Linked DNA regions of Homo sapiens. The protein of the gene in region 1 purifies or fractionates together with the protein of each later gene. This does not show direct contact. Each region holds a gene or a part of one and is shown in the gene's direction. Other genes may lie near its edges.

Region 1 (3,500 bases):
CCAGAAATAGTGTTGGTCTTACATCAGAGAGGGCTTGAGTATTTTGCAGATAAATGTGCCCATTGTGACATCTGAGAGGTTTTTCTGGTGTTCTCTTCCCAATAACAGCCATTACAGCAGCAGATCATCAGACTCCACCAAGAGCTTGGGAGACAGAAGTCTCTGTGGGCTGATGTTCATGGAAAACTCCGGAGTCATATAGATGCTTTGAGGGAGCAGAACATGGAGCTCCGAGAAAAGCTGAGAGCTCTGCAGCTGCAGCGGTGGAAAGCCAGGAAGAAATCTGCAGCGTCCCCACACGCGGGGCAAGAATCGCACACTCTGGTACCAAAAGCGCATTTATGTTTTTGTACCGTTTGCGTTATGTAAAAATAGCGTCCCCATAAAGATGTGGGCTTTATTGCTGAATGACGCGGTATCACTCACGCTCCGGGTGGTGGGAGGGGTTGCTATCTTTCCATCAACTCCATTTCCCGTAAGTAATGATTAATAAGAACTGGATACATCAGGCCTCTCACCTGGCACTCCAGCAGACAGAAGCATTGCCGCCCCCAGGCCGTGTGTCTCAAGTCCAGAATTCTAAGACATCTCATGATGTCTCAGGACAACAGCAGCAAACCCTTACTGTGGACTTTACATGGGCTAGGTACGGAGCTTTACGGTCTTACTCTCTATGACGACCCTATGAAATGGATCCTATTACTAACCCCATCGTGGCCACGGGCTGGAGAACGTAGAGCTGGGATTTGAACCCAGGGTGACTCCAGAGCCAGCTCAGTAGCCTGGTGTCCTTCTGTTCATCCTCTAGGACAGCTGTGTAGAATGCAATAGAGACCTGTTGAAACGGGAAAAGTTCCCTTGTCCCCCTCGCAGGGTGTGCGATGGGGGTGTGGCTCGCTTCTTTGGTTCCCCACTGCTCAAACCTCTAGGGGAGTGTACAGACCGGCAGGCTATGGGGCTCTGACCCCACGGCAGTGTCTGGGGGTGAATGTTTCCAGCTGAAGCCCCAGAGGGTGTGTGTTACAGTGCGGGAGCTCTTTCAGTTTACCCCTCCGTAGGCAGCTTGTGTTTATCAGCTCAATTAGACCCTCTGCCTTATCACAAGGACAGAGGGCTTTCTGTATCCTGGGTTCTTGCCTTGGTGTACCTGAAAAATCAGATCACACATGGGCTTGGAGGATGGGTGCAAGGTTTTTTATTGAGTGGTGATACCTGTCAGCAGATGGGGGAGCCAGAAGGGAGATGGAGTGGGAAGGCAGTTTTCCCCTTGGGAGTTGGGCTGCCCAGTGACCGGGCTCTCCCCTGACCACCCCAAGCAAACTCCGTGTCATTCCGCCAGTCGATGGCCTGCTGGCGTCTGCTGTGTCTGCTGGTGTGCTCTTCTGCCGGTGTGTTCTTCTCGACATCCAGCCGCTTGGTCTCTGCCCGCTAGGGTCTTGGGGTTTTTATAGGCATAGGATGGGAGTGTGGCAGGCCACGGTGGTCTTGGGAAATGCAACATTTGGGCACAAAAGCAGAAATGCGTAGGTCCATGGGCACAGGCCCAGGGGTCGAGCCCTAGCCAGGGACCCCGTTCTTCTCCACCCAGGACTTTCCTGCCCCCATCCTGTATCACTAACCTGCTCTATCCCGAACGAAGAACCAGCATTCTCATGCTGAAGTAGTGGGTGCCTCCCAGCACCAGCCTGCCTCTACAGAACACTGAGCTTTCACGTTTGATCACACCGCTCAAAGAACCAGCCTAAGAGAGTGTGAATGTGGCCAGTGTTATCACTGCCTTGTCTGGGTTCTGTTTCCTGCATATGGATCTAAATAACTTGAATCATTAAAATTATACATACAGGTAACAACACATGAAACCACATGAACACCCTCCAAACGTAAGTGGGGATATTTCTTAGTGGATTAAGAAAAGTACTAACATTTCCTAGCTGCATTTATTGTGTGAACTTTTAAATCGGTACTTCCAGGACTTAGAATATTTCCGATACAGCACAGTGATTACAACACACACACACACACACACACACACACACACACACACACAGGCACCCACCGAATACATTCCAGAGGAGACTGCTCTGTGGTTTGTTCTCCAAGCACAGCAAAAACAGCCACAGCTGGGCGCGGTGGCTCACACCTGTAATCCCAGCACTTTGGGAGGCCGAGGCAGGTGGATCGTGAGGTCAGGAGATTGAGACCATCCTGGCTAACACGGTGAAACCCCGTCTCTACTAAAAATACAAAAACATTAGCCAGGTGTGGTGGCGGGTGCCTATAGTCCCAGCTACTCGGGAGGCTGAGGCTGGAGAATGGCCTGAATCAGGGAGGTGGAGCTTGCAGTGAGCCGAGATCGCGCCACTGCACTCCAGCCTGGGGGACAGAGCAAGACTCCGTCTGAAAAAAACAAAACAAACAAACAAAAAAAACTGCCACAAGTTCCTCTACAAGAAATTACGGGAAATCTTGGAAGTTATTCCCACTCTTCGGGAGCTCTGCGAGAGCTTTGTTTCCATGGAGATGGCTTCTGCTGCCTCAGAAAGAAAGTGAGTTTAGCCTCTCAGCACAGCAAAGCGCCGAGTCCTTCTGCGGAAGGAAGAGCAGAAGCTGGGCAGGCTGTTCCTCTGTCAGAGGAAGAGTGGGGGAAATTGCCACAAATACTGGCCGGGATTGTCCACCTTCTGTGGGGAGAACCCAAGAAGACTCACAGGGATTTTTTTCCCTACATATATTGTATGCCAGTTCCTAAAAAATAGTATCTACTGCCCCATTTGGGTCATTGTATAACAATTACCCTAAGAGTCAATGAAGTCTTATTCAGTCTTCACATGCCCTGCAGTTTTGATCATTCTCTTATTTTGAGATTAGAGCTTGGTGAATTTCCAAATATTTTTCCATTCTGTGCATTGCACTGGTCACCGTGGGGCTATTTATAAGAACAGGATGTACGCTCACAAGAGCATACCTGATTTGAAGAAACAGGATGGGATATGTGAATCCCACACTTTAAATATGCGAAGGTGTATCTGTGTGTAGTCGCCGTTTTAGGGACTGAATATCTAAAAGGCTGAGACTCGAGCACCCACAGAACGCGGGCATGGCTGTGTGGGTGAGCCACTCTGGATCTGATATTAAGGGTTCGTTCATAGCAACCCTCTCCCCTTCTCATTCCCTTCTCCTCCTCAGAGGGCAGAACGGTGAATAATTTAGCATTCCAGACCTAATATACCTCATCCCACCTGAAGGATCACCCTGTTCCAGGTCAGTCTGCTGATAACAGGGAAAGTTGGGAATTTGCATTTTGGATCTTAGACAAGTTGTAGAGACAACACTAGAAGTAGTATCACATTTTCTTCCTCCGTTAACACACTCCCGGTTGAAGACACAGGAGCCTAAAGGAAGATATGTTGGGGATTGTTTGTTCTGTAGCCTTTGGGATCCTGTGATCATTTTGAAACAAGGAACCACAATAAGAAACACAAAGCAAACATCGGCTCCAC
Region 2 (3,500 bases), on another chromosome or scaffold:
CAGAGTTGGAAGGGACAGCAGATTCTGACTGGAGCCCTTTGTTTCATCGGCATCCAGGCCCGGGGAGGGGAAGTGACTCTGCCACTGTGCTGGAACTGAGGCTCCAGGCTGCCTGGCATTGGCCCTTTGTGCCATGCTTGGTGGTGGGCAGCAGGTTATTGGATAATCACAGGCACTCCGACAAGGGGGTTGTTCTGCTTTGGTTGAATGTGACTTTTAGCGTTAATCATCCAGTGTGTGGAGCTGAGGCTCCACTTGCCTCTGTGCCTTGACTAGCACTTGCCCACCACCACAGGCGGTCCCCTTGATTGACCTAAAATCTCTCTTCTAGTTGCACATCATTGAAGTTGGACAGCCTGCAGCGGGAAACCAACCTTTTGTAAAGAAAGCAGTAGATGTGTTTTTTCCTCCAGAGGCACAGAATGATTTTCCAGTGGCTATGCAGGTACGAATGTGCTGCTCTCTAAACATCTTCATGTCCTAAAATCTACTCTAGCACCTCCCAAGATACAGGAGGCTGCCATTTTTAGTCTGCTTCTGCTGTCTCCTGCCACTGTGATGCTTTCAAACCCATTTAGAGGCCTAAGGCTTTGGCGTGTGAGCTGGGAAAGCCCTGTTCGTAGAAAGGAATGCCCGGCATGAGGGTGAGTTAGGGCAGCAGGAAGACGTTGCCAAGTCACACATCAAAGTCCTCAGCTCTTTCCTTCTTATTATAAAAGATTAGATGTTCACTGTGGTATGAGAATATTTAAAGAATAAAATACCTAATGTAGGTGACGGGTTAATGGGTGCAACAAACCACCAGGGCACGTGTATACCTGTGTAACAAAACTGCACGTTCTGCACATGTAACCCAGAACTTATAATAATAAAAAAAAGAATAAAACACTTATTTCCTTTACAATTGGCTGCCATTGAGGGAGCCTAGAGCTCCCAGGGACAGTCCTTTGAGCTGGCATTCAGAATGGCCCAGCCTTTGACACGCAGCCTCTAGTGAAACTAGGTAGTCCCAAGCCCCTGGTGGGAGAATTATTCACCTTTACATCAAGAAGGTTGGGAAAACACCTGAACCTGCATGTGGCATGTGCCTAGCCAGACTTCGAGGAGTTCGTGCTATGAGACCTGAAGTTCTTGTGAGGTTCCCTAAAACAGAAACACATGTCAGCAGGGCCTGTGGTGGTTCCGTGTGTGCTAAGTGTGTTCGTGACAGGATCAAGTGTGCTTTCCTTATTGAGGAGCAGAATATTGTTGTGGAAGTGTCAAAGGCACAGAGTCAGAAAACATTCCTCTGTAGATAAACCAGTTGGATGTAAAATATATAAGAAATCTTGGCCGGGCGCGTTGGCTCACACCTGTCATCTTAGCACTTTGGGAGGCCGAGGCGGGCAGATTGCCTGAGCTCAGGAGTTCGACGCCAGCCTGGGCAACATGGTGAAACCCCGTCTCTACTAAAATATAAAAAATTAACTGGGCATGGCGGTGTGCACCTGTAGTCCCAGCTACATGGGATGCTGAGGCAGGAGAATTTCTAGAACCCAGGAGGCAGAGAGTGCAGTGAGGCAAGATCACACCACTGCATGCCACTGCACCGCGGCCTGGAGCAAGACTTCATTTCCAAAAAATAAATAAATAAATAAATAAGAATAAAAATAAAAAATCTTACAATTTGTTTTATAAAAAATTTAGATCTATACCTTTTCTGAACAAAATTGGCATCACATTATATATGTAAGATTATATAATCTACTCTCCTTTTTACTCTTTTGTTCTCATAAAATATATGTTATCTGTACATTTCTAATAATATCAATAAATGTAACAGCAGGATTAAATATCACCTGAAATCCTAGCACTGCTGATAATTTGGCTACCCCTTTGGAAGTAACTTAACATGCATACATTTGTGCAGATTTATACAGATGGACTCTTATGAAAATGGCTCTGCACTAGCCTTGCTGCTGTATAAACTCCTCTAGCTATGTTGTAGATCATTCTGTTCCAGTAACATAATGTATGTATTTTATTGTCTGTGTCATCTGTTCTGTGGATTTGCTACAACTCATTTAAACAATCCCCTGTTGATTGGTATTTACATTTACAAGAAACACTATAAGGAACATTGTGCTCCATACATCTTTGTATGTTAGTCTAAAAGTCCGAGGATAAATTCCTAGAAATTAAACTGCTGGGTCAGGGGCACACTCTCATCACAGACTCTCCTGACCATGCTGGCCAGTTCACATTCCTACTGATGCTGCCGGTGGTAGCTGGACAGCATCCCATGTTGTGATGTCTTTCCCTTGGTTACCATCAAGGCAGAATTGATGTATCAGCCACTCATATGTATCCGGTTAATTGCCTTTTCCTAATCTTTGCATTTTTTTTCTATTGGGATCTTTTTTTAAAAAGTAGAGATGGGGTCTTGCTATGTTGCCTAGGCCAGTCTTGAACTCCTGGCCTCGAGCGATCTTCCTGCCTCAGCCTCCCAAGCAGCTGGGGTTACAGGTGTGTGTCACTGTGCCCAACTCCAGGATTTTTACCTTATTCGTAAGAGCTTTTTGTACTTGTAGAGTACTAAGTGTCTGATGTATTTTGAATATTTTTCCCAGTCGTAATTTGTGATATGTGGCACCTTATGGAAGTGCTGCATTTTTGTGTGGCAGTGGTATCATGTTTTGAGACTAATTCTGCACCTGAAGATGATCACAACATTTACCTATATTTTCTTTCATTCCTATCCTAATTGTCCTTGTTTTTTATTTAAAATCTTTGACCCATCTGGAATTTACTTTGATCTAAAGAGTAAGATAGAAATTCAGTTCTTTACTCTTACCTCCATCTCCAGATAGCTAGCTAACTATATTAATAATATATGTTATATATTGATTAAAGTGCCTATTTTCCACTAATATGTTACCTACTAATTATTTATTTTTCTAGAGTTGGAGTCTTGCTACGTTGCCCAGGTTTGACTCAAACTCCTGGGCTCAAGTGATCCTCCTGCCTTGGCTTCCCAAGTAGCTGGGACTATAGTCATTAGCCACCACACACTCATTCTTAATAAATTCTCATATATGATTCATTCTCTTTCAGGGCTCTTAATTATTTTCTCTCTCTGTCTCTTCCAGTGGTAAAATCATACTTCAAAAATTACTGTCTGTTTTAATATATATGTTTAATAATCTGGTTGGGCAAATGCATCTGTTTTTTCTCCCCAGCCCCTTCAGGTTTTCTTGTGTGTTAAATATTTTTCTGTAAAAGTTAATAGCATTTGGCAAAACTCAAAGGTTAATAAGTGGTGGTAGAAGGCATGCTGGAACATCATCTTGGCGTTTGAGGTCTTTGTCCAGAACTTTCCCCTTCTCTTATGAACTCACAGCTTGCTTAAAGGGGTTCGATAAACTGTGAAAGGATCGCTCTACCTGAAAGATAAATGGAGTAGCCTGAGTTTATTGGACCTTTATTTGAGAGTGGTTGGACAAAATATTGTCTTTAAAACT
Region 3 (3,500 bases), on another chromosome or scaffold:
ATTTTGTCTAGACTGTGGAGTAGTAGCATCATGGAAGAAAATCAGTTTTCCAGAACCTTTAAGCTGCATGAATGCCTGTCATTTTACCAAGGGAAGCTTAGGATGAATTTTTTTTTCCCTGCCTGAGGTTTCTTTGTACAAATAGCACAGGAGGACCCCAGCCCCACAGCCCCATGCAGATGGCAGCCTGGCGGGGGGTCGCACCAGTCCTGTCCTCACGTTGGCAGATAGAGATATCTACTCTGAAGCCTCTGTAGGGGCCTGGGCACCTTTGGGAGCCTGAGCTGGAACTGAAGCTGGAGCTGCAGCCTGGGCCTTGGTTTGATCCTTGTCCTTGGCCTTTGGCCAGCACACCCTGAGCCCCTTGGCAATGCGGGCACGAGCATGCTTCCCAAGCTTGGGGTGGACAGTGTAGGCAAGTTGAGCTTGCGGCTGACACCCTTTGGGATCTTGGGCTTAACCTCCTTGGGCTTTAGGAGGGCCTTGATAGCCTTGGCATGTGCACTCATGGCCTTGGCACTGTTAGCCTGCATCTTCTTTAGGCCCTTCTTGTTGTGTTTCTTGGCAAACTGCATGTTCCTCAGGAACTTGGGGTCCACCCCCTTAAGAGATTCGTATCTTTGTGCTTCGGGTTTCTTGATACCATTTCTGTGCCATTTTTGGGACTGGTTGTGTGTGGTGTGGTTCTTGGACTTGGCCATGTCTGCACCTTAAGGCGCGGCTCCTGAAGCGCCTAGAATCTGAAGAGACAGGATGAATTTAATACTAAGGGGGCTGTTGTTTAAAGTGGGAAAGTTAGCACCACACATAACATGCATTTAGACACTTAGCATAATTAATTTGTTTATAAATGAATGTATCTGCCCTTTAGTTAATAAAGTTCTATATATGGACTGAGGAGAAAAAGGAGCGAGCATTTTGTGGTGCTATTTTTTTTTTTTTGGAAAGCCTGTATTTGGGGCTATGACCCTTTCTCATTGATAGTGACTTGAGTAGAGAGAGGAAGGGTAGATGGAAGTAGAAGAGCATACAGCAAAGGCATTTGCTGACGTTTCCACACTTTATGCGTATTTATGCCTAATAAATGTTTGTGGAATTAGCATAGCTGCCTGGACCTATTTCAAGCAAAAGGAAACAGGGCTTTAAATGGCTTTTAAAGCTTTACCTTGGCAATCCATAATTACCTTACTGTAATAGATATCTAAAATTTAATACTGTGGGTAAAGTGTTTCACATATTACAACCTTCTTTTTTTAAACTAATGTTAGGTTATAATAAGGATTTATCTTCGTCTTAATTGTAGATAATTATTGCAAGTCTAGGGGCAGTCTAAGCAAAGGAATTATTTTTAATAAAATCAGTGATTGGGCAGAAAAAAATTATGGCTCCCCTAATAGTAGTTTATGAACTTTTTGGAAATGGAGAAGAACAGCTGAAACTTGACAGTTGGCAAAGTCTGTCAAAGTATCTTGGATGTTGCATGAACTGTTAATTGCAGTGAAGGCAACTAAAGTATGGGTTTGTAAAATAGGTGTATCAGATCCCCTAAAAATTAAGGCATTCATGTATGTAAAATGAAGTCTCTGAAAAGTTTTGAAGCCTCAGTGAGGAGCCCCTGTTAGGTATGACCCCCACCCCCACCTCCAAATAGTATCTCATAATGACAGCAGTGAGTCAGTAGCTATTTCAGAACTATCACAGTAGGCAACAGAAATCAAGTAACTTCAACCACTTATTTCATGAAACCCTTTGTTTTTACTTAGCTCATTTTGGCAACCTAGTGCCATCAGCAATGGTAAAGAATTCTTTCCCTCCCTTCCCTTATTAAGAGCTACTTATACATAAAATGGGGCTCTCCCTGCTAATGGAATCTGTTAATGCTGTTTCTGATTTATCTCACCTGCCTATGGGAACTTCTGGAGTCCTTCCTTCCCCTCTTTCCCCAAATAACTTCCAGAAGCATGGAAATGAGTGCTGCTACATTGCAGCCCAAACTGAGTCTCTTTGCTGAAAGATGGGAAGCTGACACCTCCTTCTGCCTCAAACTGCAGGGTTCTGCTCTCTAGGGGTTGTAGCAAAAATGTGAAAATCTTGATCCAGCACTATAAATGGGTTTTATTGCAAAGATAACCACCCTATCATATCTGACAATAGACAACTTAGATGCAAGTCCTTAATTCGTCATTTGTTCATTTTACCAACTTTGAACCTTTGTTATAGTGCGTGTACTTACCTCAGTGCTGCTGATAGGAAGGCCAATACAATGTGCTCCTTCCCTTAGTGAGTTTATACTTTGGAAGTTGGGCAGACAGTCAAGCCTAAAATTAAAATGTGCAATGAAATTTTGTAGGAGCTATAATGTAGGGCATTATGGAGACACAAAGTGTGTGTTGGGGGGGCATTAGCTGCTGAGGGAAGGATAAAAAGGCTTTGTAGAGGAGGTGATAGTTGTTAAATACTGAAAGATGAGTACAAGTGAGCCTCTTAGACAAATAAGAGGGCATTCAAGGCAGAGAGAACAGTGATTGACACCACTAAAACGAGGAACTGCAAAGGAGTTTGGCATGACAAGCTTGTTTGCTTGAGCTAGCTCCCTTTGGTGTAGCAAGAGATAGGTCTAGAGCCTTATTATGCAGGGACTGGGTTGGAGAACCATGTAGATCAAATGAAAGATTGGATTATCCTGTAGTTTAGTGTGTTTAGAGGTTTTTTTGGCTATGACCCGTTGGAAAGATAAGCATCTTTACATTGCAACCCAATATGCTTGTATATAAATGATAAAATGTCACTACATAATACCCTTGCTTTGTATGGTACACTCTGGTAGTTTCTATTCTGTTCCGTTCTATTTTATTTTTAAGATAGACTGATGATGGTGACCCACTCAATTTATTTAATGACGCTGTGTTAGCAACTGGTAATTTGAAAAGCACTTCTCTTCTGTGTGAAGATTACTAAAGGGTTTTAAGCAGAGTAAGAACATGATCAGGGAAGTAGAATAAGAAAGCAATTTTAAAAATCATTTACAATTTGGTTTTGTGTCTTGTATCCTGTGGAAACACCAAGCCAGAACAATGAACTCTGGCTGGGTAGAGGAAGTGGACAGTTGGGCAGGCCCTGGAAGGTTCCGAAGTGGGGAGGGGAGGGATGGTGACTGAGAGATGTGTAGTTGGCTGAACGGGGCTTTTTCAGAATTAGGACATTTCATTGGAGAGGTAAGAATGTAGCAAAGAGCATGGTATGTTCTTAGCAGAGTCACTAACTATGGGTCATAAAATAGTGAATTTGGGAGTTAAGGGGTTGACAGAAGAAACTGTCCTTATTCATAGTTTATAGTTTTGAGTGATTAAACATCTCAGAAGAAAAGGTGGTTATATCCCAAAAGGTCTAACCTCTCTACTGCCATGTGATTTTTTTTTTTTTCAGTCTTTAGTGTTTAGTTGAAGTATTTATTTTTAGTTACTGGATTGTTATTTCAGATTAATATGACTAACTGGACA
Region 4 (3,500 bases), on another chromosome or scaffold:
GATGGTTTTGTAGGCTGACAGCAAGGCCCCTTTTTTCTGGAGAGTTTCTCCAAAATGTAATATCTTCAGCCCTGGCAATCATGGAACTTGAAGCTTGAAACCCATTATATTATCTCCCAATTTCTTTTTTAAAAACATCTCAGTGAAACCAAAAAAAGCCCTTTGATGTTTCATTGCCTACTAAATTAGGTACAAGTTCTGAACCTTGGCCTCTAAACTCTTCACCATGAGACTTCAACTGACGTTTCCAGTCCAGACTTCAACTGACCGTTCTTATGAGTTACCTTATCCTCCAGCTAAATTGGGTAGTTCCTAGTTGTCCATCACACTCTGTCCTCTTTTGCTTGTGCTGTTACAAACTATGCTGATATTAGTTTCTTTCTGCCTCTCGAAAGTCTACTTACCCTTCAGGATTTATATTTAATGCTGCCTCTTGCATGAAGCCATTCTTGAATTTCTCCAACTAAAATGTGATTTTTTTCCCTCCTTTGAGTCCCTGGGTTACATTGTAGCTCTTTTTTGTATACCTTTTATTTTCTGCCTCCTACTGTACTTATAGTTGTCATATCCATGTCTAGACTGGTTTCTCCTGGATAGCAGGGACCATATCTTACCCAGCGTTGTATTCCGAGGCCTGCAAGTACCTGATAGGTGTTCAATTAATATTTGAATTTAATTAAGTATTTTAAGACCCAGCAGGGTACAGTGGCTCATGCCTGTAATCTCAACATTTTGGGAGGTCGAGGTGGGCAGACCACTTGAGCCTAGGAGTTCAAGACCAGTCTGGGCAACATGGTGAGACCCCGTCTCTACCAAGAAAAAAAAATTAGGGCACGGTGGTGTGTGCCTTTAGTCCCAACTACTCAGGAGGCTGAGGTGGGAGGATTGCTTGAGCCCAGGAGATGGAGATTTCAGTGAGCCATAATTACGCCACTGCACTTCAGCTTGGGTGACAGAGTGAGAACCTGTCTCAAAAAATATATATGTTCCAAGACTCAAGTTTACAGTTGGAAAGGATGCATGGGAAGACAGAGGGTAGCTATGTGTAATGGCTGCTCAGTTCTTAATAAGGTTGTTCAGACACTAATAAAATTCAGCCACTTAAAAGAGATATGTAAACCATGCCTGACTTAAGTATCTTGCTTAAAGTGTTGAATTCAGTTACTTTAAAACAAGATAGAGAAATGAGAAATGTCTTGTAGGGAAAAAAAAAAAAAAAAAAAAAGCAATTGCTGCTCCATCACTTCACTTTCAGTGACCTTGAGCTGAGTAATCTTGTGGTGGTGTCACTCTGTGCCTTCAGGTGCGCCATTATGAAAAGCAGCTGGACGAAACCGTGGTCAGCTGCAAGAAGGCACAGGAGAACATGAAGCAAAGGCATGAGAACGAAACGCACACCTTAGAAAAACAAATAAGTGACCTTAAAAATGAAATTGCTGAACTTCAGGGGCAAGCAGCAGTGCTCAAGGAGGCACATCATGAGGCCACTTGCAGGCATGAGGAGGAGAAAAAACAACTGCAAGTGAAGCTTGAGGAGGAAAAGACTCACCTGCAGGAGAAGCTGAGGCTGCAACATGAGATGGAGCTCAAGGCTAGACTGACACAGGCTCAAGCAAGCTTTGAGCGGGAGAGGGAAGGCCTTCAGAGTAGCGCCTGGACAGAAGAGAAGGTGAGAGGCTTGACTCAGGAACTAGAGCAGTTTCACCAGGAGCAGCTGACAAGCCTGGTGGAGAAACACACTCTTGAGAAAGAGGAGTTAAGAAAAGAGCTCTTGGAAAAGCACCAAAGGGAGCTTCAGGAGGGAAGGTAAGAAAGTGAAGGGAAATGAAGCTACCTGGGGCACCATCCCTCGGGGCATTAGAAGTGCCAGTTGTGGCTGGGCGCGGTGGCTCACGCCTGTAATCCCAGCACTCTGGGAGGCCGAGGTGGGCGGATCACGAGGTCAGGAGATCGAGACCTGGCTAACATGGTGAAACCCCGTCTCTACTAAAAATACAAAAAATTAGCCGGGCGTGGTGGCGGGCGCCTGTAGTCCCAGCTACTCTGGAGGCTGAGGCAGGAGAATGGCGTGAACCCGGGAGGCGGAGCTTGCAGTGAGCCGAGATCGCGCTACTGCACTCCAGCCTGGGCGACAGAGCGAGACTCCGTCTCAAAAAAAAAAAAAAAGTGCCAGTCGCTTAAGAGACTTGAAGAAGTCAGAAGGCATAATAGCCCATTGATTGAGTAGACTCTTTTAAATATTTTTTTACTGTTTTTGCCATTATTTTGATGTGAACCTACCTTGGGATGATTGGAACTGTTTTTATTTTGTTATGTTTGTAAAAGAGGAAAGTATTCCTCGTATTAAGATTTATTCTACCTTATAAGGCTCAAGAGGAGGATAAGATTATCCCAAAAGTGGTTCCTTCCTAGTTCAATCCTGTTGCTTTCTGAGAAAAGCTATTAATAAACTGGATTCCAGGCAAGGTTACATTTCCTCCCAGAGTTAAGAAACAGCACTCCATGCTTACATTCCTCATGTGAAATCCCAGGTTTATTTGAGGGCTTTGTTTCGTCACACGCTGATTGACTTGGTGCTACTTCGTTAAGTAAGAAGCAAAAGCAGAATGAATTTGTTCATATGTGTCATTTATGTGACTGATATCCTATAACGCATGCTTAATTAAAATGAAGGAATGGTATATATTTCCCAAGTGAGGAATTAGATTAATATACATTTGGTCATTTGTCTTTGGTTTAAAAATCCATAAACAAATACATCCGGGAGTGTGCCAGAGAAATTAGTTTCTAAGATTTCCCCCTAACTCCAGAGAGAGGTAAGTCTTTTAAATGAATTATGGCTGCCAGTCTTAGCTTTCAGAAATGAGATCCCTTTCCAGTATAAATGAATCACATAGGAGTAAGTTAAGAGCATTTTTAGGGAGTATTTCAGTTGTTTGCTCAGCAGCTTTCTCAGTGCATGGGAAAATGGTTTTTGTTTGCTTCTGGAGTTGGCGGCAGTTTCAATAATGCTGTATGTTGACTATATTTAGGGAAAAAATGGAAACAGAGTGTAATAGAAGAACCTCTCAAATAGAAGCCCAGTTTCAGTCTGATTGTCAGAAAGTCACTGAGAGGTGTGAAAGCGCTCTGCAAAGCCTGGAGGGGCGCTACCGCCAAGAGCTGAAGGACCTCCAGGAACAGCAGCGTGAGGAGAAATCCCAGTGGGAATTTGAGAAGGACGAGCTCACCCAGGAGTGTGCGGAAGCCCAGGAGCTGCTGAAAGAGACTCTTAAGAGAGAGAAAACAACTTCTCTGGTCCTGACCCAGGAGAGAGAGATGCTGGAGAAAACATACAAAGAACATTTGAACAGCATGGTCGTCGAGAGACAGCAGCTACTCCAAGACCTGGAAGACCTAAGAAATGTATCTGAAACCCAGCAAAGCCTGCTGTCTGACCAGATACTTGAGCTGAAGAGCAGTCACAAAAGGGAACTGAGGGAGCGTGAGGAGGTCCTGTG
Region 5 (3,500 bases), on another chromosome or scaffold:
AACCTGGTTGAGGAGACAAAAAGACGTTTCTGAATCACCAACTAACCAACTAACAGAAGACAACTTGTGATGAATGGCACAGATGAGCATTGCTAGAGCAGCTCAGAGGTGGAAACTTGCTGAGAATGGGCTGGGCTTAGAGGGTGGAGTGTGAAGGCTTAGCTGAAGCAGCAAGATGGCACACATGGGGACCATGAAGAAGCTGGCCACGAGCAGTGCAGGGCCCAGGATGCTTGGCAGCCGCAAAACAGCTGAAAAAGGAGACAAAGGTCTTCATGTCTGGCACTGAGCTGGTTAGGTTTTCTTCTGTAGGCAGTGGGGAACCTTGGAAGGATTTTGAGGAGAGCACTGTGACTAAGACATTTCTGTTCTAGTGGCATTGTGGTGTAGTGAAAAGGTCACTGGGCTAGGAGTATGAAAACCTGGATTCTAGTCTGGCTCTGCCACTGCTTTGTGTTCTCAGGCATGTTTCTGCCCCTCTTCGAAGTTTAGTTTCCTCATCTATAAAGTGAGGATGATAATAATGTCTACCTCACAGGGTTGTTGTGAGGATTTACTCAGCACATTTTTTGGACTGCTTCCAAAATGCTAGACACTTATTGGGTGCTAGGGATACAGAGGTGAAGGAGACAGACTCTTGGACTCTCTTCCATGGAGCTTAATAAAATAATACATGTAGCTGGGCACAGTACCTGTAATCTCAGCACTTTGGGAGGCTGAGGCAGGAGGACCTCTTGAGGCCAGGAGTTTGAGTCCATCCTGGGCAAATACAGCAAGACCTCATCTCTACTAAAAATAAAAAACAATTAGCCAGTCATAGTGGCTTGCGCCTGTGGTCCCAGCTACTCCAGAGGCTAAGGCAGGAGGATTGCTTGAGCCCAGGAGTTCAGGGCTACAGTGAGCCACTACACTCCAGCCTGGGTGACAGAGTGAGACCCTGTCTCAAAAACAAATAAATAAAAAAGATAAAACATGTAAAAAGCTTGCTTAGCATAGTACGTATAGTAGAGATATTTAGGTGGTATATTTGAGAAATAAAAGGATTGAATACTTTCCATTATCTGCCCCTAAAGAATTAAGAGGTTCCTAAAATTCCTTTCAACCAGCTATTATCAGTCTTTTGTGATTTGTTTTTGTTGCTTGTTTAGAAATATATCCCTTGTTTTACCTCAGATCAAATACTGCTTTTGGAATAAGATCCGAACTTCTTAGTGGGGCATTCAGAGCCTTTTCAAGCTCTGGTTTTTTTTTTTGTTTGTTTGTTTGTTTTTTGAGACAAAGTCTCACTCTATCGCCAGGCTGGAGTGCAGTGGCACGATCTCCCTCAGTGAGCCGATTTCGGCTCACTACAACCTCCATGCCCCAGGTTCAAGCAATTCTCCTCACTCAGTCTCCCAAGTAGCTGGGATTACAGGCACCTGCCACCACACCCAGCTAATTTTTGTATTTTTAGTAGAGACAGGGTTTCCCCATGTTGACCAGGCTGGTCTCAAACTCCTGACCTCAAGTGATCTGGCCATCTTGGCCTCCTAAAGTGCTGGGATTACAGGCATGAGCCACCACATGTGGCTCAAGCTCTGATTCTAATCACCCTTTTTCTTTGTACCACATACTCTTCTTCCACATATCCTATGCCCTGGCAAATGAGGCAGTTTACTGCTCTGTGACTGCCTAATTCCCTGCTGCCTTTACACTCTTATTCCTTTCTCCTGGGATGTTCACCCTGAATTATCAACATGAGAATCAGTTGATTGTCAGAGCAAGGCTTAAAACTCTGGTTTTCGCGGGTCGTGGTGGCTCACACTTGTAATCCCAGCACTCTGGGAAGCTGAAGCGGGCGGATCATGAGGTCAGGAGTTCAAGACCAGCCTGGCCAATATAGTGAACCTGCATCTCTACTAAAAATCCAAAAACTTAGCCGGATGTGGTGGTGCGCACCTGTAGTCCCAGCTACTCAGGAGGCTGAGGCGGAAGAATCGCTTGAACCCGGGAGGTGGAGGTTGCAGCGAGCTGAGATCGCGCCATTGCACTCCAGCAGCCTGGGCGACAGAGTGAGATTCCGTCTAAAAAAGGCCGGGCGTGGTGGCTCATGCCTGTAATCCCAGCACTTTGGGAGGCTGAGGTGGACGGATCACCTGAGGTCAGGAGCTCAAGACCAGCCTGGCCAACGTGGTAAAACCCTGTCTCTACTAAAAATACAAAATTAGCTGGACATGGTGGCGCATGCCTGTAATCTCAGCTACTCAGGAGGCTGAGGCAGGAGAATCACTTGAACCTGGGAGGCGGAGGTTCCAGTGAGCCGAGATCATGCCACTGCACTCCAGCCTGGGCACCAAGAGTGAAACTCCATCTCAAAAAAAAAAAAAAACCTCTGGTTTTCTTTGTTGTTTATGCTCTCTGTAGTTTAGGGGTTAGAAATGGGGGAGGTATGTACCAAGAGTCTGTGGCTGTCCCAGAAGTGTGGATAGAAGTGTGATTACTGAAGTGCTTGCCAGCTTTTGCATTTAGTGATTCTATCCTCCTTTTTTTTTTTTTATTTAAATCTCATTCTGCTTTGATTTCCTTTGTACATATGACTTATAATCCCCATTAGAAATTGAGCTCATGGTGGCAGGGGTTGTATATGTCTTTTTTTTTTTTTTTTTTTTTTTTTTGAGACAGTGTTTCGCTCTTGTTGCCCAGGCTGGAGTGTGATGGCGCTATCTTGGCTTACTGCAACCTCCGCCTCCCGGGTTCAAGCGATTCTTCTGCCTCAGCCTCCCGAGTAGCTGAGATTACAGGCATGCATCACACCTGGCTAATTTTTTATTTTTAGTAGAGACGGGGTTTTTCCATGTTGGTCAGGCTGGTCTTGAACTCCCGACCTCAGGTGATCTGCCTGTCTCAGCCTCCCAAAGTGCTGGGATTACAGACGTGAGCCACCACGCCCGGCCTATATATGTCTTAATTCATCTTTGACTACCTTCCCCCTGTAGGCTGCTGTCTTCGTGGTGCCTAACAAATGTTTGAATAGGCAGCAAATAACTGCAGATTTCTTTTTTCTTTTTCTTTTTTTTTTGAGACGGAGTCTCGCTGTGTCGCCCAGGCTGGAGTGCAGTGGCGGGATCTCGGCTCACTGCAAGCTCCGCCTCCTGGGTTCACGCCATTCTCCTGCCTCAGGCTCCTGAGTAGCTGGGATTACAGGTGCACGCTGCCACACCCAGCCAACTTTTTGTATTTTAGTAGAGACAGGGGTTTCACCGTGTTGCCCAGGCTGGCCTTGAACTCCTGAGGTCAGGTAATCCGCCCACCTCGGCCTCCCAAAGTGCTGGGGTTACAGGCGTGAGCCACCGCACCCAGTCCTGCAGGTTTCATCTCTAGGCAGTAAAGCCCTCACCCTAGAGTACATGCTTCAGCTCTGTCACATTTTGAAATACAAAGTTGGGACAAATTTAATATGTCTGAACCTGTTGTAAAGCTATCCTGGTGAAGTTTGAGTTGTTCCTGGAGAATTGCAGGAC
Region 6 (3,500 bases), on another chromosome or scaffold:
ACAACTAGGATTTGCAGCAGTTCAAGTCAGTGAGTATATCTGTAAAGGGCTTTGTCCTATGTGAGGTTATTTGGGGAAAAGAAGAGTAAGATGCCATACCCATGTTGTAGAGAAGAAAGATAATATTTTAAAAGTTTTAACATTTTACCTTTGGTTATTTGAAGTTTCGTTTTTATTTTATTTTTGATATTGTCAAATGTCAATGAGAGAACTTAGACATAGATGCTTGTATTATTTGGGAGTTAGGCAATAGGTAGGTATATTGTATGCTGTATTTTAAAGCTCAGTTTCAAATAAAAGATATTCCTTCCATGTTTTTCATTTAGCTTATGTAATTTCATTACTTGTGATATGTTTGAAAAATTCACACCTTCAGTCAGGGTTTCTCAACTCCAGCACAGTTGACATTGTGGGCTGTATACCTCTTTGTTTTAAGGGCTATCTATCCTGTGCATTGTAGGGATGTTTAACAGCATTCCTGACCTCTACCCACTCGTGGCCAATAATATCCCCTTCTCCCTGGCAAAGACAACCAAAAATATCTTCAAACATTGCCATTGTCCTCTGAGTTCAAAATTGCCCTCGGTTAAGAGTCACTGTTTTAAGTGATAATGTAGCTTTTTACAAATTTTCTTTTTTGAGTCTAGAGAAATAAAATATTGTCAAGAAATTAACTGGTGCTAAAATTCATTATTTTTAGGACTTGGTGAAATGTGAAAATAAGAAGAATGCTACACCCAGAACTAATTTGAAATTTCCTATTTCAGATGATAGAAATTCTTCTGTCAAAAAGGAACAAAAGGTGTGTCTTTTAATTTGTCCAAAATTGTAGCAATTATCCAGAAATCCAGTTGTGTTCAATTATAACTCATTTATCTTCTCTTTCCTATACATCTGATTCAGTTGAAATGTAACCTTTAGCATTTGGCCAGTAGCATCTACTTTATGTGTTTACTTCTGACTTTAACACTCTGCCTGTCAAACTCTTTTTGCCATTGTCTGACCCTTTTATCCCTGTCCTTACATACTTAAAGTTTCCTACCTGAGAATTCATAACCTGTCTCTGGCCTCTTTAATTCAGCTGTGGCCATAACTATTTCCTTCTAACACTTCTCATCAACAATAACAAAAAATGTTTTGTTTATTAGGTTGCCATACGTCCATCATCTAAGAAAACATATTCTTTACGGAGTCAGGCATCCATAATTGGTGTAAACCTGGCCACTAAGAAAAAAGAAGGAACACTACAGAAATTTGGAGACTTCTTACAACATTCTCCCTCAATTCTTCAATCAAAAGGTTTGCAGAAAATTAATTAAATGACCTTTTTTTGTTAGATGTTGGGTATATTTTAATACCTAATTGATATATAAACTCAACAGCTGTTCAGGGAATATTATACTTCAAATAGGCATTGTCCTATACTAGGTACTGTGGGAAGAAACATGTAAAAGGATGATAGATCTAGGTGTTCGCTATGTAGTAGAAGAGAAAGGCTTGTATTTAAGTAACTGATCCAGAGCAGGCTACTTAATATAGTAATAGGGGTATAAGCAAAGGTATGATAGTATTGGAGGGAAAAGAGCTACTCTGATTAGGGGGCTTTGGGAAGGTTTTTATGGGAGAGATGGGATTTATCCTGTGTATTGAAATGTGGGCAGGAGTACACTCTCTAGGGTGTCCAAGGGTGAGAATACAGTCATGGGTTCTTAGTTTCTGTTTTTGGTTGGGGCAGGAAATCCCCTTCCTCATCCCTGTTTTCTGCTTATCACTAGAGACAGAAACTAAAAACCATGGCTTCAGGCCGCTAAAAGCCTAAAACAAAACAAAACAAAACAAAACAGAACAAAAACAACAACAAAATAAGGTGGGTTGGACAAGTTTGCCAGTATTAGTATTATGGTATATATCCTCCTAGTGTTTTTTTTTCTGTGCATATGTAAACATTATCTGTTTATGTACAATATGTCAAAAACACATTATTTTCATAAATACCTATTGAGTTTAGCTGCAGAAACAGTATGCTTAGTGCTTTTTTTCTTGATAATATAATGTGGACATATTGATACCTGTGTATATGTTAAGATATATACACATGTGTGCACATATGCGGAAGGAATGGTTTTAACACAGGTGGAGTATCAGAAAAATGTAGGAAATGTTCATGCAATTACAGGCAGCAATACACATCTGGCATGTAGAATGTGGAAGGACTATCTTAGGGGTGAGATGGAGTAGTGGGTTTTTGTGAGGTTACCTGAATGACAGCAATAGGATGAATTAGAGACCAGAGTGAGGGGTATAGGGAAGGAAAGGAACTAGAAGCAGGGGGCAGTTAAATTGAATCAAATATGTTGTGTGAAAATACTTTTTGTCGAAGGCTTACCACAGACGTTTCCAAACTTTGTTGGTTCACAGTGCCCTTAATGTCTCAGTAATTAATTTCCATTTTGCCTCTGCACCCAAAGAACCACTAGTAGTCTCATGCATTAGAACTTAAGACCAAACAACCACTGAAAATTCAGCTTCTGAAAATCCAGATTGCAAAGATAATGTCATAATGAAAAGAAATGTAATTCAGTATCGTTTTGAAATTGAACTACCTTGGGCTATTGAGCATCACTATTTTCCCTGAAGATTGAAAATATCCTGAGGTGCTTCTGTAAGTTTGCTGCAGCATGCCTTAGTACACAGTTTGGGAACTTCTGACCTATCAGACCCATTTGTATATTTACATACATTTAAAAAAATATGTACATTTAAAAAATGTGTTTGTATAAACAGAAAATATCTGGAGGGACAAACAGCAAACTGTTAAATATCTAAATTTGGAGAGGAGGGACATCTTTCTTTAGAGTCCTTTAGGCTTACTACCACTTTTATATTAAAAAGAAATATATTTTCAAGGAGAGGTAGGTACCTATAATAAGTATGTAATCAGATAAGGGTAATGATTCTCTTACTTCATTGACTTGGTTCCTTAACAGCTTCCCTACCAATGCACTTGACATACATTTTTTTTTTCCTTTTTTCTTTTTGTTTTTACTTATTTCTAGAAATATAAGATATCCCTATTTTGAACTGTAACTGTAATACATATTTGTTGTTTTGGGTCACTTGGAAATATAGAGAGAAAAGAAAAAATGGAGATTAATTTTTAAAATTCTGCTGCTCTGATAACCACTGTTAATCCATCACTTAGTATCACTGGTCTCCCAGCTTGCCCCTCTTGTCATCTCCCATCCATTCATACATGACAGAATGTTCTTTTCAAAGTGCAGATTGAATTATGTTACTCCTCTGATCCTTTAATGATTTCTCATTCTTCTGAATGACCTGATTTCTGACTCTCTCCAATCTATCTCTTATTATTCTACGGTTTGATAACTAGCCAGCTTCAATCCTGCTAACTTCTGACAGTTCCTAGAATTTGCCAGCTTCTTTCTTACCTTCATATCATTGATTTCTTTTGCTTTTTCCTGTGCTTTCTTTTATCTGGA
Region 7 (3,500 bases), on another chromosome or scaffold:
ACCACTTAGTTCCCAAAGACTTGTCCTTTATCCCAGACCTCCATTTTGTAAATGTGAATAAAAACTCCACAATTGGAAATGGAAATATGTCAAATAGAAAGCATCACTAATTCATAGTCAAATCACAAAATAAACTTTTAGTATTAGATGCTGAGGGCACAGAAAAGTCCTGCGATAATAGCACAACTAAAGGAAGGCTTGGCTGAATATCTCTGTCATGGAAACAAAAAAGACAGATGGAAGAGCATACTTAACAGCTTCTTGTTTTTACGTAATTCAGAAAAGCAGTAAGTGGAGTTCACATTGCTTGGCCTCTAATAGCTGATAGTATGTTCAGAGTAATTGTCAATAGGTGATTCCTATCCACATTTCCCCAGACAGCTCCTCTGTTTTCCCTTTTCACTTTGCCAGTATGGAACCTACCCTGTGCAAGGTATTGTGGTAGATGTTGGGAACTCAAAGGTGTAAAGAAAGCTAGCCACATTTGTGCAGTGATAAAACAAGTAATTCCCCAGACCGGCTGGTGACTTCTGCACTGACTCTTGACGAGCAGGGCTTCACATGCCACATGTAGGTGAGGATCGCTTTTAGATGTTCTCAAAATATGGACCCCAATCCAAACCTGTCTAACAGTAAGGAGAGTCTGGACATACAGATGTTAAAACACAGTGGAGATGATCCTGGACTCCTACATGAAGACTACACAGAACATTATATTGGACTGGGGATTGTTTCTTCCTTAAATACCAGGTTCTTTTAGGGAACATTGGCAGGGCTTTCATTCCTTGTATTGAATATTCTCAAGTCGTGATATTCCCAGTGGTTTTGTTTGCTGTTATGGCTGAGACACACACACACACACACACACACACAACACTCTCACTCTCTCTCTCTCTCACTCACTCATGCCCACACTCTCCCTGTCTTCTTCTTGTTGATTTTTTTTTTTTTTTTTTTTTTTTTTTTTTGCTAGGAGGTTCAGTTCATTGGCTACTTAATATCTATCTCCAGTTTGGTCAATTGTTGATACATCTTTTGACATTTCTGGTTTTCTTGCATTTGATATTTACTCCTTTGCTCGATTTTCTCCACTTTATTCTTGTTCTTTCTCATGTCTTTTGCTTTCCTGAATCTCAGTTGAATTCCTGACAGGGTTTGACTTAAAAAAATCATTATTGTGGTGAGACCTCTCAATATAAGATCTATCCTCTTATTTTTAAGAATACAATACAGTACTGTTAACTGTAGTATAATGTTGTGCAGCAACTCTCTGTAGTTTATTCGTTTTGCTTAACTGAAACTTGATGGCTGTTGAGCAGCAGTTCACCGCCATTCTACTCTGTGTCTATGAGATTGGCTATTTAAACTCCTCATATAAGTGGAACCAGGCAGGATTTGTCCTTCTGTGACTGGCTTATTTCACTTAGCATAATATTCTCGAGGTTAATATATGTTGTTGCATATGGCAGGATTTTCTCCTTTTAGACTGAATATTCCTTTATATGTCTATATATATCACATTTTCTTTATCTGCTCATCCGTTGATGGACAGTGAGGTTGTTTCCACATTTTTTTTTTTTTTTTTTGAGATGGAATCTGGCTCTGTCGCCCAGGCTGGAGTGCAGTGGCACGATCTCAGCTCACTGCAAGCTCCGCCTCCCGAGTTCATGCCATTCTCCTGCCTCAGACTCCCGAATAGCTAGGACTACAGGCACCCGCCACCATGCCCAGCTAATTTTTTTGTATTTTTTTTAGTAGAGACGGGGTTTCACCATGTTAGCCAAGATGGTCTCGATCTCCTGACCTTGTGACCTGCCTGCCTCAGCCTCCCAAAGTGCTGGGATTACAGGCGTGAGCCACCGCTCCAGGCCTCCACATTTTTGCTATTGTGAATAACACTGTAGTGAATATGGGAGTGCTAATATCTCTTTGAGATCCTGATTTCAATTATTTTGTATAAATACCCAGAAGTGGGATTGCTAGATCATGTGGTACTTCTAGTTTTAATCTTTTGAGGCATTTTCATACTGATTTCCATAGTGGATGCACCATTTTACATTCCTACCAACAGTGTATAAGGATTTTTTCTCCGTATCCTCACCACCACTTGTTACCTTTTTTTTTCTTTTATACAACCTACAAATTGGGAGAAAATTTTTGCAACCTACTCATCTGACAAAGGGCTAATATCCAGAATCTACAATGAACTCAAACAAATTTACAAGAAAAAAACAACCCCATCAAAAAGTGGGCGAAGGACATGAACAGACACTTCTCAAAAGAAGACATTTATGCAGCCAAAAAACACATGAAAAAATGCTCACCATCACTGGCCATCAGAGAAATGCAAATCAAAACCACAGTGAGATACCATCTTACACCAGTTAGAATGGCAATCATTAAAAAGTCAGGAAACAACAGGTGCTGGAGAGGATGTGGAGAAAGAGGAACACTTTTACACTGTTGGTGGGACTGTAAACTATTTCAACCATTGTGAAAGTCAGTGTGGTGATTCCTCAGGGATCTAGAACTAGAAATACCATTTGACCCAGCCATCCCATTACTGGGTATATACCCAAAGGACTACAAATCATGCTGCTATAAAGACACATGCACAGGTATGTTTATTGTGGCACTATTCACAATAGCAAAGACTTGGAACCAACCCAAATGTCCAACAACGATAGACTGGATTAAGAAAATGTGGCACATATACACCATGGAATACTATGCAGCCATAAGAAATGATGAGTTCATGTCCTTTGTAGAGACATGGATGAAATTGGAAATCATCATTCTCAGTAAACTATCGCAAGGACAAAAAACGAAACACCACATGTTCTGACTCATAGGTGGGAATTGAACAATGAGAACACATGGACACAGGAAGGGGAATAACATCACACTCTAGGGACTGTTGTGGGGTGGGGGGAGGGGAGAGGCATAACATTAGGAGATATACCTAATGCTAAATAACGAGTTAATGGGTGCAGCACACCAGCATGGCACATGTATACATATGTAACTAACCTGCACATTGTGCACATGTACCCTAAAACTTAAAGTATAATAATAATAATAATAAAAATGAATAAGAAAAAAAATAATAATGGCCAACTTAACAGTTATGAGGTGATATCTCACTGTGGTTTTGATTTGCATTTCCCTGATGGTTAGTGGTGATAATCGTCTTTTCATATATCTATTAGCACATTTGTGTATCTTTTTTAGAGAAATGTGTATTCAAGTTCTCTGTGCATTTTTTCATTGGACTATTTGAGTGTGTTTGTTTGCTTTGAGTCATAGGAGTTACTTATGTATTTCGCATATTCACCCCATACCAGGTATATGGTTTGCAAATATCTCCTCCCATTCTATAGGTTGCCTTTTCAGTCTGTTGACTGAAAGTTTCCTTAGCGCAGACACTTTTTAGTTGAATGTAGTCCCACGTATTTGTTTTTGCTTTTTTTTTTTGTTGCCTATGTCATATCCAAGAAATC

The links.
Region 2: the proteins of TCP10L (region 1) and CLTCL1 purify together in Homo sapiens (affinity purification with mass spectrometry; 2 studies listed by BioGRID and IntAct, with this or other methods). This does not show direct contact.
Region 3: the proteins of TCP10L (region 1) and HOMER1 purify together in Homo sapiens (affinity purification with mass spectrometry; 2 studies listed by BioGRID and IntAct, with this or other methods). This does not show direct contact.
Region 4: the proteins of TCP10L (region 1) and NIN purify together in Homo sapiens (co-immunoprecipitation; 3 studies listed by BioGRID and IntAct, with this or other methods). This does not show direct contact.
Region 5: the proteins of TCP10L (region 1) and KIF2C purify together in Homo sapiens (affinity purification with mass spectrometry; 2 studies listed by BioGRID and IntAct, with this or other methods). This does not show direct contact.
Region 6: the proteins of TCP10L (region 1) and KIF20B purify together in Homo sapiens (co-immunoprecipitation; 3 studies listed by BioGRID and IntAct, with this or other methods). This does not show direct contact.
Region 7: the proteins of TCP10L (region 1) and CCDC6 purify together in Homo sapiens (affinity purification with mass spectrometry; 2 studies listed by BioGRID and IntAct, with this or other methods). This does not show direct contact.

What each region holds. Positions count from the first base shown.
Region 1 is NC_000021.9:32,579,024-32,582,523, reverse strand, and holds part of TCP10L (T-complex protein 10A homolog 1), read left to right. Parts: intron 1-108; coding exon 109-324; intron 325-3,500. Other genes in the region: CFAP298-TCP10L (uncharacterized protein LOC110091775), read left to right, coding at 109-324. UniProt on the Homo sapiens protein: May be involved in transcriptional regulation. Has in vitro transcription inhibition activity. Acts as a tumor suppressor in hepatocellular carcinoma (HCC) cells.
Region 2 is NC_000022.11:19,236,220-19,239,719, reverse strand, and holds part of CLTCL1 (clathrin heavy chain 2), read left to right. Parts: intron 1-331; coding exon 332-445; intron 446-3,500. UniProt on the Homo sapiens protein: Clathrin is the major protein of the polyhedral coat of coated pits and vesicles. Two different adapter protein complexes link the clathrin lattice either to the plasma membrane or to the trans-Golgi network.
Region 3 is NC_000005.10:79,507,635-79,511,134, reverse strand, and holds part of HOMER1 (homer protein homolog 1), read left to right. Parts: intron 1-117; exon of another isoform or gene 118-748; intron 749-3,500. UniProt on the Homo sapiens protein: Postsynaptic density scaffolding protein. Binds and cross-links cytoplasmic regions of GRM1, GRM5, ITPR1, DNM3, RYR1, RYR2, SHANK1 and SHANK3.
Region 4 is NC_000014.9:50,758,163-50,761,662, reverse strand, and holds part of NIN (ninein), read left to right. Parts: intron 1-1,303; coding exon 1,304-1,806; intron 1,807-3,032; coding exon 3,033-3,500. UniProt on the Homo sapiens protein: Centrosomal protein required in the positioning and anchorage of the microtubule minus-end in epithelial cells. May also act as a centrosome maturation factor.
Region 5 is NC_000001.11:44,742,837-44,746,336, forward strand, and holds part of KIF2C (kinesin-like protein KIF2C), read left to right. Parts: intron 1-3,500. UniProt on the Homo sapiens protein: In complex with KIF18B, constitutes the major microtubule plus-end depolymerizing activity in mitotic cells. Regulates the turnover of microtubules at the kinetochore and functions in chromosome segregation during mitosis.
Region 6 is NC_000010.11:89,767,590-89,771,089, forward strand, and holds part of KIF20B (kinesin-like protein KIF20B), read left to right. Parts: intron 1-700; coding exon 701-802; intron 803-1,148; coding exon 1,149-1,299; intron 1,300-3,500. UniProt on the Homo sapiens protein: Plus-end-directed motor enzyme that is required for completion of cytokinesis. Required for proper midbody organization and abscission in polarized cortical stem cells.
Region 7 is NC_000010.11:59,795,057-59,798,556, reverse strand, and holds part of CCDC6 (coiled-coil domain-containing protein 6), read left to right. Parts: intron 1-3,500.